Linked DNA regions of Homo sapiens: region 2 is linked to region 1. The links come from fine-mapping of genetic effects on gene expression. A gene starts in region 1. The other region holds a variant in brackets. All regions are shown on one strand. Distances are between the middles of the regions.

Region 1 (5,330 bases):
GCATCGTATGTAGTAACTCTTAATTCTCACGATAACCCTGAGGTAGATATTATTACCCCGTTCTACAAAAGGAGAAACAGTCCTGGGGAGACAGGATAAGTCACCGGCCAAGGCACACAGCTAGCTACATGTGGCCCCCGCGTGACGGCTGGTCTCTGTAGGCGAGGCTTTGTCCAGATGCGTGGGTAGAAGGTCTGGCCCGGAAAGAGGAACTGACAGCAAGGCTAAGCCAATGTCTGCCCCTGGGGGCAGAAAGTCACCTCCTGCTCTCCCTCCACTGTCCACAGAGGTAGCTCAGACAGGGTGGGGGTCACAGGAGAACGAAGGGAGAAGGGGGTAGTTCCTGGGCAGCAAAATCAGGTGGTGAAGGGAGGCATCAGAGGATGGCAATTAGAGAGGCCATTAGAGGGGAACCACAGGCAGACAGGGTGACAGGAGGGACTACTGACACAAGGTGAAGAGATGGCCCAGCCGGACGGGGTGGCTCACATCTGTAATCCCAGCATTTTGGGAGCCCGAGGTGGGTGGATCACTTGAGGTCAGGAGTTCGAGGCCCCAACATGGCAAAACCCCATCTCTTCTAAAAATACAAAAATTAGCCGGGCATGATGGCAGATGCCTGTAATCCCTGCTACTCGGGAGGCTGAGGCAGGAAAATTGCCTGAATCCAGGAGGTGGAGGTTGCAATGAGACGAGATCATGACACTGCACTCCACCCTGGGCAACAGAGCAAGAGACTGACTCTGTCTCATAAAAAAAAAGAAAAAAGAAAAAAAAAAAGAGATGGCTGATGGTTAAAGAGGGGTTAGCGGTCAGGGGACACATAAGGGTAAAGGCAGGAGGCAAGAGGACTGGCAGGGGGCTGCCCCTGGGCCACCGGGAGCGACACAGGATGAGCATGGAGGGAAAGGGAGAAGGGGATTCTAGGGTCCCAGCCTACCCAAGTTGCCCTCTGGTTCCACCTAGCATGCCAGCCAGAGGCCCAGGAAGGAACCCTGAGCCCCCCACCAAAGCTAAAGATGAGTCGCTGGAGCCTGGTGAGGGGCAGGATGAAGGAGCTGCTGGAGACAGTGGTGAACAGGACCAGAGACGGGTGGCAATGGTTCTGGTGAGGGTGTGCTGGGCTGGGTGGTGGGAGGGGACTCCTGGGTCTGAGGGAGGAGGGGCTGGGGCCTGGACCCCTGAGTCTCAGGGAGGAGGAAAGGGTGGGAGTGGGGCTGTGACCCCTAGGTCTGGGAGGAGTGGAGGGTTAGAGCTGAGAGCAGGAACTCCTAGGTCACAGAGAGGAGCGGATAAATGGGGCAGAGAACACCTGGGGAGAGCTGGGGCCTCCACTGTGATGTCCTCTCTCCTGTAGGAGCCCGAGCACCTTCCGGGGCTTCATGCAGACCTACTATGACGACCACCTGAGGGACCTGGGTCCGCTCACCAAGGCCTGGTTCCTCGAATCCAAAGACAGCCTCTTGAAGAAGACCCACAGCCTGTGCCCCAGGCTTGTCTGTGGGGACAAGGACCAGGGTTAAAATGTTCATAAAAGCCAGGTGTGGTTGTGGCGGGTGCCTGTAGTCCCAGCTACTCAGGAGGCTGAGGTAGGATGATGGCTTGAGCCCAGGAGTTCGAGACCAGCCTGGGCAACACAGCGAGATCTCTTGGGGGTAAAACAAAAAGAAAAAAAAAAGTTCATACTTCTCCAATAAATAAAGTCTCACCTGTGTCCCTGTCTGGATCCTTCCCCAGTGTGGCCAGAAAAAAACCCACCCCACTGCCTCCCAGGAATCAATGAGTAGAAGAGGTGACACCTGATGGGGAAGGAAGAGTAGGGAGGTCGGGAAGGGTATCAAGGAATAACACCCTATTGTGGGCTTGCGGAGAATGGGGGACTTCAAGGCGTGTCAGTTTCAGGAGGGTGAGGGCAGGAGCGTGGGTGGAGTCAGCAGGTCCCCATGATGGCCCTCACTGAGAGCTTCGCCCTTGTCTCCTACAAGCTCTGACTCCATTCCCAGTGGGCACCCAGCACCTCCAACCCCTCCACAGCCCCCAACCCAGCCTCTGTCGGAGGCGAATTCTCAGAGTGAGGGTTCCCTGTCACTTGAGAGAAGGTTCCCTGTGACGTGACCTTGGGGGACGTCATTGCCCTTTCTGTCCCCACCCACCCCCTCCGCAGTTCTGTTGGCCAGGACTTTGGCCTAGACAAAGGATGGGGGTTGTGGCTGTGGAGCGGAAGTGGGTCTCAACCACTATAAATCCTCTCTGTGCCCGTCCGGAGCTGGTGAGGACAGCCTGCCAGAGTCTGGTAAGAAAGGGACTCAGGGTGCGGGGACAGGGGGGCGTCAGCAGGGAGAGGGCAAAGATCGATAAAGCAGGAATTTTAAGAGGCACAATATTAGAAGCCCGTGTTGGAACCATGACTGTGTGTGTGTGTGTGTGTGTGTGTGTGTGTGTGTGTGTGTGTGAGAGAGAGAGAGAGGGAGATGGAGTCTCGCTATGTAGCCCAGGCTAGACTCAAACTCCTGGGCTCAAGCAATCCTCCTGCCTCAGCCTCCCCAGTAGCTGGGACTACAGGTGCACCACCACACTCCACAAATCACAGAATTTAGAACTGTAGACTATTTGAGCTTCTGCTTAGAGTTAGGGTGGCTGAGGTGGGGAGGATCCCTTGAGCCCAGGAGTTTGAGGATGCAGTGAGCTGTGATCTTGCCACCGTGTTCCAGCCTGGGTGACAGAGAAACCCCATTTCTAAAAAAGAGAAAGAAAAAGGGATAGGTACAATGGCTCATGCCTGTAATCCCAGCACTCTGGGAGGCCGAGGCGGGTGGATCACTTGAGGTCAGGAGTTCGACACCAGCCTTACCAGCATGGTGAAACCGCATCTATACTAAAAATACAAAAATTGGCCGGGTGTGGTAGCATATGCCTGTAATCCCAGCTATTCCAGAGGCTGAGACAGGAGAATTGCTTGAACCCAGGAAGCGGAGGTTGCAGTGAGCCCAGATCGTGCCACTGTACTCTAGCCTGGGTGACAGAGCAAGACTCAGTCTTGGCGGAAAAAAAGAATGAAAAAATTTAAAAAACTAAAAAAGAACTGTAGGCTGGGCGTGGTGGCTTACACTTGTAATCCAAACGCTTTGGGAGGCCAAGGCAAACGGATCACTTGATGTCAGGAGTTGGAGACCAGCCTGGCCAACATGGTGAAACCCCGTCTCTACTAAAAATACAAAAATTAGACAGGCATGGTGGTGCATGCTTGTATTTCCAGTTACTCAGGAGGCTGAGGCAGGAGAATCGCTCGAACCCGGAAGACAGAGGTTGCGGTGAGCCAAAATTGCGCCATCGCACTCCAGCCTGGGCGAGAGAACAAGACCTTGTCTTGGAAAAAAAAAAAGAATTGTAGACCATTTGCTTGTGTTCTTTCTCCGGGGATCAGATCTCACCCTCTTTCTGCCGTACTTCCTCATCTCCTACGTGTGGATGATGATATTGTGCCCTGTGCATGTTCTTCGTCACCAAAAGTGCCTCTCTCATAGAGCAGGTGAGAACTCAGTGAGGAGATGCAGGGACATGAGGTCTGACTTAGGGCAGAGCCCTAAGGTAACACATTTGATCTACTGTAGGTCCTTAATGGTGTCTGCAGAGCACCTCCCTGCACTGACTCAGCCTTAGCAAAGGGCAGAGGCTTTGCTGTGTTCCCTGCTGGGCCCAGAACTGTTTAGGTGCTCAAGAAAGCCTTCTAGGCTGGGCTCAGTGGCTCACACCTGTACTCCCAGCACCCTGGGGAGGCCGAGATGGGAGGATCGCTTGAGCCCAGGAGTTCCAGACCAGCCTGGGCAACAAAACAAGTCTCCCATCTCTACAAAAGAATAAAAATTAGCAGCTGGGCATGGTGGCTCATGCCTGTAATTCCAGCACTTTGGGAGGCCAAGGCAGGCAAATCACTTGAGGTTAGGAGTTCAAGACCAGCCTGGCCAACATGGTGAAACCCCATCTCTACTAAAAATACAAAAATCAGGTGGGGCACAGTGGCTCAAGCCTGTAATCCTAGCACTTTGGGAGGCCAAGGTGGGCGGATCACGAGGTCAGAAGTTCGAGACCAGCCTGGCCAGCATGGTGAAACCCCATCTCTACTAAAAATACAAAATATTAGCCGGGCATGGTGGCAGGTGCTTGTGATTCCAGCTCCTTGGGAGGCTGAGGCAGAAGAATTGCTAGAACCCTGGAGGCAGAGGTTGCAGTGAGCCGAGAACACGCCACTGCACTCCAGCCTGGGTGACAGAGCGAGACTCCATCTCAAAAAATACGAAAACAAAAATCAGCCGGGTGGTGGCGGGTGCCTGTAATCCCAGCTACTGGGGAGGCTGAGGCAGGAGAATTGCTTGAACCTGGGAGGTGGGGGTTGCAGTGAGCCAAGATTGCACCACTGCACTCCAGCCTGGGCAACAGAGTGAGATTCCATCTCAAAAAAGAAAAAAATAATAATTAAAATGTTAAAATCAGGAGTAGAATCACAGAATGTTGGAAAGTGAGGCCCAAGAAGGGGGCTGTGTCCAAGTCCATGCATGGGAAACTTGACTGGGACACCGAGCTCACACAGAGCAGGATCTCAGTCCCCCCCACCAGAGTGGGGCGTGACCACAGGAACAGCCGCCTCCAGTCAGCCTGCCACATGACACCCCCTCAATGTTCCAGGTCTCTGGACACTATGGGCACACGACTCCTCCCAGCTCTGTTTCTTGTCCTCCTGGTATTGGGATTTGGTGAGTGTGGGCTTCCGGGGAGGGAAGCCTTGGGGAGGGGAATGAGCTCCAAGCATCTTCCCAGCCCAGGCCCTTCTTACCTCTGCCTCTGCCCTCTCCTCTTCTTCCTTCCTCCTTTCCCCCTGCTGCAGCCCCACGGGCTCTCCTGACACACTCTCCCCCTGCAGAGGTCCAGGGGACCCAACAGCCCCAGCAAGATGAGATGCCTAGCCCGACCTTCCTCACCCAGGTGAAGGAATCTCTCTCCAGTTACTGGGAGTCAGCAAAGACAGCCGCCCAGAACCTGTACGAGAAGACATACCTGCCCGCTGTAGATGAGAAACTCAGGTAGCACCTGCCCCTGGAGAAATGGGGTCTGGCCCATACCACCGACTGCATCCAGGACCCAGAAGTTCAGGCCCCAGCCCCTCCTCCCTCAGACCCAGGAGTCCAGGCCTCAGCCCCTCCTCCCTCAGACCCAGGAGTCCAGGCCCCCAGCCCGTCCTCCCTCAGACCCAGGAGTCCAGGCCCCCAGCCCCTCCTCCCTCAGACCCAGGAGTCCAGGTCCCCAGACCCTCCTCCCTCAGACCCAGGAGTCCA
Region 2 (5,367 bases), 63 kb after region 1:
TGGCCAGGCTTGTCTCAAAATCCTGACCTCCACTGATCCAGCCACCTCGGCCTCTCAAAGTGCTGGGATTACAGGCATGAGCCACTGTGCCCAGCGAGAAAATCCCCTTCATTGTGAAGGGCCAGACATATGCTGGACCCTGGGGATAAAATGAGGAGAAACAGACATTATTCCCACTCTTCAATGCTCCCAGTCTATAGGAGACAGGTATGAGTCAGTGTAATGTGAGGTCATGTGACATCTTCATCAGCGCCATGAAAATGATAAAACAGGCTGGGTGTGGTGGCTCATGCCTGTAATCCCAGCACTTTGGGAGGCCGAGGTGGGTGGATCACCTGAGGTCAGGAGTTCAAGACCAGCCTGACCAACGTGGCAAAACCTCATCTCTACTAAAAATACGAAAATTAGCTGGGTGTGGTGGCCTGTAATCCCAGCTACTCAGGAGGCTGAGGCAGGAGAATCACTTGAACCTGCGAGGCGGAGGTTGTGGTGAGCTGAGATTGCATCATTGCACTCCAGCCTGGGTGACAACAGCAAAACTCCATCTGAAAAAAAAAAAAAAAAAGAAAATGATAAAACAAAGGCACCTGACTTTGAGGGACTGGAGTGGGGGATAAGGGGACTCTCTTGGATAAAATGGTCAGGGAAGAGCTGTCTAGGATGTGACGTTTGACCAAGGAACTGAAGATGGAGGAGGAGGAAGTCACGCCATGCAAAGAACTGGGGGAAGAGCATTCAGGCAGAGACCAGCCTGTGCAAAGGCTGAGGCAGCACATACATAGTCAATTTCCTGCTCTCACATCTGCTCTCACGTGGCCCATCCTGGCTGCCCCTGAATGGTGGCAAGTCCACGTTGGGGGTAAAGGGAGGCACTGCTATTTGAGCAGAAACTTGAATAATTTCCTGGCTAATAGAGGACTTGAGATAATAATAATATTAACTAAGCTTTCTGGAAGATGTCGCGTGGTCAGAACCTGCACTAAGTAGTTTACCTGTGTGATTCTGAATCCTCATGTTAGTTCCTGAGGTAGGAGCTCACACCTCATTTTGTAGAGGAAGCTCAGAGACGGTAAGTGACTTGCCCAAGGCTGCACAGCCAGTGAGTAACAGCTGAGATTCAAATCAACTCTATGTGACTCTACACTCCATGCTCTAAAATCATGCCCATGGCCAGGCGTGGTGGCTCACACCTGTAATCCCAGCACTTTGGGAGGCTGGGGTGGGTGGGTCACTTGAGGCCAGGAGTTCGAGACCAGCCTGGCCAACATGGTGAAACCCCGTCTCTACTAAAAGTACAAAAATTAGCCGGGCATGGTGGTACGAGACTGTAATCCCAGCTACTCAGGAGGCTGAGGCAGGAGAATCGCTAGAACCCGGGAGGCAGAGGTTGCAGTGAGCCAAGAATGCACCACACTGTACTCCAGCCTGGGTGACAGAGCAAGACTCCATCTCAAAAAATAGAAAATAGGCTGGGCGTGGTGGCTCACGCCTGTAATCCCAGCACTTTAGGAGGCCGAGGTGCGCGGATCATGAGGTCAGGAGATCGAGACTAGCCTGACTAACATAGTAAAACCCCGTCTCTGCTAAAAATACAAAAAAAAAAAAAAAAAAAAAAAGCCGGGTGTGGTGGTGTGCACCTGTAATCTCAGCTACTCGGGAGGCTGAGACAGGAGAATCACTTGAACCCAGGAGGCAGAGGTTGCAGTGAGCCAAGATTGTGCCACTGCACCCTAGCCTGGGTGACAGAGCAAGACTCCGTCTCAAAAAAATAAAAATAAATAAAATAAAATAAAATAAAATATTAAATAAAAGTATCTTAGCCCAACAAGGTAGGCATTATTATTGTGCCCATTTTACAGATGAAGAAGCCAAGGCACAAAAAGGTGAAGTAATAGGCTTATGGCCCCACAACTAGCAAGTTGCAGAGCCAGGATTTGAACAGAGGCAGTGAACCCAGAGCTCCAGCCACAGCCGCCCAGGACTCAGTCTCCCCCTACAGCCCGGGAGCCTCTGGAGGGTCCAAAGTCTAACTCTGTCTTTGGGTCCCCAGGTTCATCCAGCACAGATGCCTAAGAAGGATTTTCCCAGTTCAAGTGACTTGAGGTTGGCCCTGCCACTGACCTAGAGCGTGTCCCTTCCTCTCTGCCAGCCTCAGTATCCCCATCTGCCAAATTGGGGGGACCTTGGCACCCTACTGGCTTCACAGATCCCATGAGATAAGGGGTGCAGGAAAACTACCTTTCAAGGGGCAAAGGTCTGGCTGCCAGGAGCCACTCCCTGAGAACAGAGGAGGACAGATCTAGCAGCGGAACAGGTTCGCGTCTATAAATCCCCAGCCAGAGACCAGCGCAGGCAGCCCTGGGTGGGACACCTGGCTGCAGCTGCCTTCCGTTGCTGTGTGATTCTAAGGCTCACTGGCGGCCTCTGGGCTTCCCCTTGTCCTGTCTATGGAATGAC[G/A]GGAGGTCGGTTTCGATTCCTCCACGATTCTGTGAAGGGCTGAGCTTTCCTGGGGAGGTGAAAAGGGGCTTCCCTGAGGACCCAGCATTACTGTACCTCCTCACTTAGGAAGCAGGGGTGAATCTGGGATTTTGGGTGGTCACTGTGGGAGGACAGGGCTGGGGTACAGAGCAAGAGGCTGCCTGGGTTCAGATCAGCCTCTTTGCATCTTTTTGTTGTTGTTGTTGTTTGTTTTTGAGACAGTCTCGCTCTGTTGTCCAGGCTGGAGTGCAGTGACGCAATCTCAGCTCACTGCAACCTCTGCCTCCTGAGTTCAAGCGATTCTCCTGCCTCAGCCTCCCGAGTAGCTGGGATTACAGGTGCCCACCACGATACCCAGCTAATTTTTGTATTTTTAGTAGAGACGGGGTTTCGCCATGTTGGCCAGGCTGGTCTCGAACTCCTGACCTCAAGTGATCTGCCCACCTCAGCCTCCCAAAGTGCTGGGATTACAGGCGTGAGCCACCAGGCCTGGCCACCTCTTTGTATCTTTAAACACCAGCCAGTGACCTCCAGGACCCTGGGGTGGACTTCAGGGAGGGAACACACCCCAATTTGTTTGGAAATTTGGGCATCCACTTTTTCCTGGTGCTAAGACCCCTTTCTAATGGGTTCCCAAAAAGACTTCATAATCCCTGGTCTAAATGTTTTTCGGGAGGCATTTGGCTTAGTTGGAGGATACCCTGATGCTGGGACCCCAACATTAGAGGTTGAAAGGATGGTAGCCCAGAGGAGAAGATGAGGTTTGGGGTTTAGTGCCCCAGCAAGTCAGAGCCCAGGGTTTCCCAGGACGGAGGAAGACGGAAGGGTCACAGGAGGGACAGGGTTGGGGAATCTGTCTTAAAAGATGAAAAGTTGTGACCACTTTCTGGACCTTACCTTTCTCTTTCTCTTTCTCTTCCTTCCACAGATGAATTGGGTGAGTATCACAGGGCAGGTTTGCGGGGAGGCTGAGGGACCCAAGTGCCTACAGAAGGGGGTCTTGGCCTTCCTTGTTCAGTGGGGGTGGGGGAGAGGTGTCACTGTGTGACTTCCAGGACTGTGGAGGGATTTGAACGAAGTCATGCTCCTAAGGTACTTAGCAGTGCTTGACACTTGGAAAACACTCAGCACGCCGGGGGCTGTGTGACTCACACCTGTAATCCTGGCACTTTGGGAGGCAGAGGCAGGAGGACTGCTTGAGGCCAGGAGTTCAGGACTAGCCTGGGTAACATAGTGAGACCCCCATCTCTACACAAAATTTTTAAAAATTAGCCGGGCATGGTGGTGCGCACCTGTAGTCCCAGCTGCTCAGGAGGCTGAAGTGGGAGGATCACCTGAGCCTGGGAGGTTGCCTTGGAAGCCGAGGCTGCAGTGAGCTATGATTGCACCACTGCACTGCAGCCTGGGCGGCAGAGCAAGACCGTGTCTCAAAAAGAAAACCAATTAAAATAAAATAATGTTATTAATCCCCTAGTGAGTACAGACAGACACTGTTTTAGGCCCTGGGGATTTAGCCATGAACAAAACCAAGTCCCTGCCCTCGCAGAGCTGATAGCCCGGTGTGGGAGACAGAGGAAAATGAACAGATGAGCAAGATAATGTTAGCCTGGGCTGAGAGCTGTGAAAGAAATAAACAGGACGAGGGAGAGATGGCCTGGAGAAGACACATTAGGTTAGGCTTTTCTGAAGAGATAACATACGAGCTGAGACCAGGAGGAGAAGCAGCCAGCATGGGTTGAATGGGGGACCGTGTGGAACAGGCAGTTGGAGGAGCAAGTTCTTTCTTATTTATTTATTTAAGTTATTTTTTGAGACAGAGTCTCGCTCTGTCGCCCAGGCTGGAGTGCAGTGGTGCTGTCTCAGCTCACTGCAACCTCCACCTCCCAGGTTCAAGCAATTCTCCTGCCTCAGCCTCCCGAGTAGCTGGGAGTACAGGCATGCACCAACATACCTGGCTCATTTTTGTATTTATTTATCTATTTATTTAGAGATGGAATTTCGCTCTTGTTGCCCAGGCTGGAGTGCAATGGCATGATCTTGGCTCACTGCAACCTCCACCTCCCAGGTTTAAGTGATTCTCCTGCCTCTGCCTCCCGAGTAGCTGGAACTGCAGGCACACATCACCATGCCCAATTTTTATATTTTTAGTGGAGATGGGGTTTCACCATGTTCGCCAGGCAGGTCTCAAACTCCTGACCTCAGGTGATCCGCCTGCCTCGGCCTCCCAAAGTGCTGGGATTACAGGCGTGAGCCACCATGCCCAGCCTATTTATTTATTTATTATTATTATTTTTTGAGATGGAGTCTTGCTCTGTTGCGCAGGATGGAGTGCAGTGACGCAATCTCGGCTCACTGCAACCTCCGCCTGACGGTTTCAAGCGATTCTCCTGCCTCAGCCTCCTGAGTTGCTGGGACTACAGGCACGTGCCACCATGCCTGGCTAATTTTTTGTATTTTTAGTAGAGACAGGGTTTCACTGTGTTAGCCAGGATGGTCTCGATCTCCTGACCTCATGATCCGCCCGCCTCGGCCTCCCGAAATGCTGGGATTACAGGCATGAGCCACCGCGCCCAGCCTATTATTTATTGAGAGACGGAGTCTCACTCTGTCGCCCAGGCTGGCGTGCAGTGTCACGATCTTGACTTACTGCAGTGTCCGCCTCCTGGGTTCAAGCTGTTCTCCTGCCTCAGCCTCCTGAGTAGCTGGGATTACAGACGTGGGAGACCATTCGGGCTAATTTTTGTAGAGACGGGGTTTCACTATGTTGGCCAGGCTGGTCTCGAACTCCTGACCTCAATTGATTCACCCACCTTGGCCTCCCAAGGTGTTGGGATTACAGGCGTGAGCCACCGCACCTGGCCTCCCTGACTCTGTGTGTGTGTGTGTGTG

What was found. PIP is the estimated chance that this variant, and not a neighbour inherited with it, causes the effect. A credible set is the group of variants that fine-mapping cannot tell apart.
Region 2: its variant is the best candidate, but not a certain one, in a credible set for the expression of APOC2 in lung (TOPMed, PIP 0.59).

The regions. Positions count from the first base shown.
Region 1 is chr19:44,943,783-44,949,112 of GRCh38, forward strand. It overlaps APOC2 (apolipoprotein C2), which reads left to right and starts at 2,269. Exons shown (of 4, transcript NM_000483.5): 1 at 2,269-2,293; 2 at 4,684-4,751; 3 at 4,919-5,078. The coding sequence starts at 4,697. APOC4 (apolipoprotein C4) reads left to right here. Exons shown (of 3, transcript NM_001646.3): 2 at 967-1,108; 3 at 1,358-1,714. The coding sequence ends at 1,523. APOC4-APOC2 (APOC4-APOC2 readthrough (NMD candidate)) reads left to right here. Exons shown (of 6, transcript NR_037932.1): 2 at 967-1,108; 3 at 1,358-2,293; 4 at 4,684-4,751; 5 at 4,919-5,078.
Region 2 is chr19:45,006,408-45,011,774 of GRCh38, forward strand. It overlaps RELB (RELB proto-oncogene, NF-kB subunit), which reads left to right. Exons shown (of 12, transcript NM_006509.4): 3 at 3,407-3,415. Among named protein-coding and RNA genes, the nearest start is that of RELB, 7.6 kb to the left of the region's middle. RefSeq lists a silencer at 714-863 and an enhancer at 5,226-5,367. The variant G/A (reference allele first, on the strand shown) is at 2,458.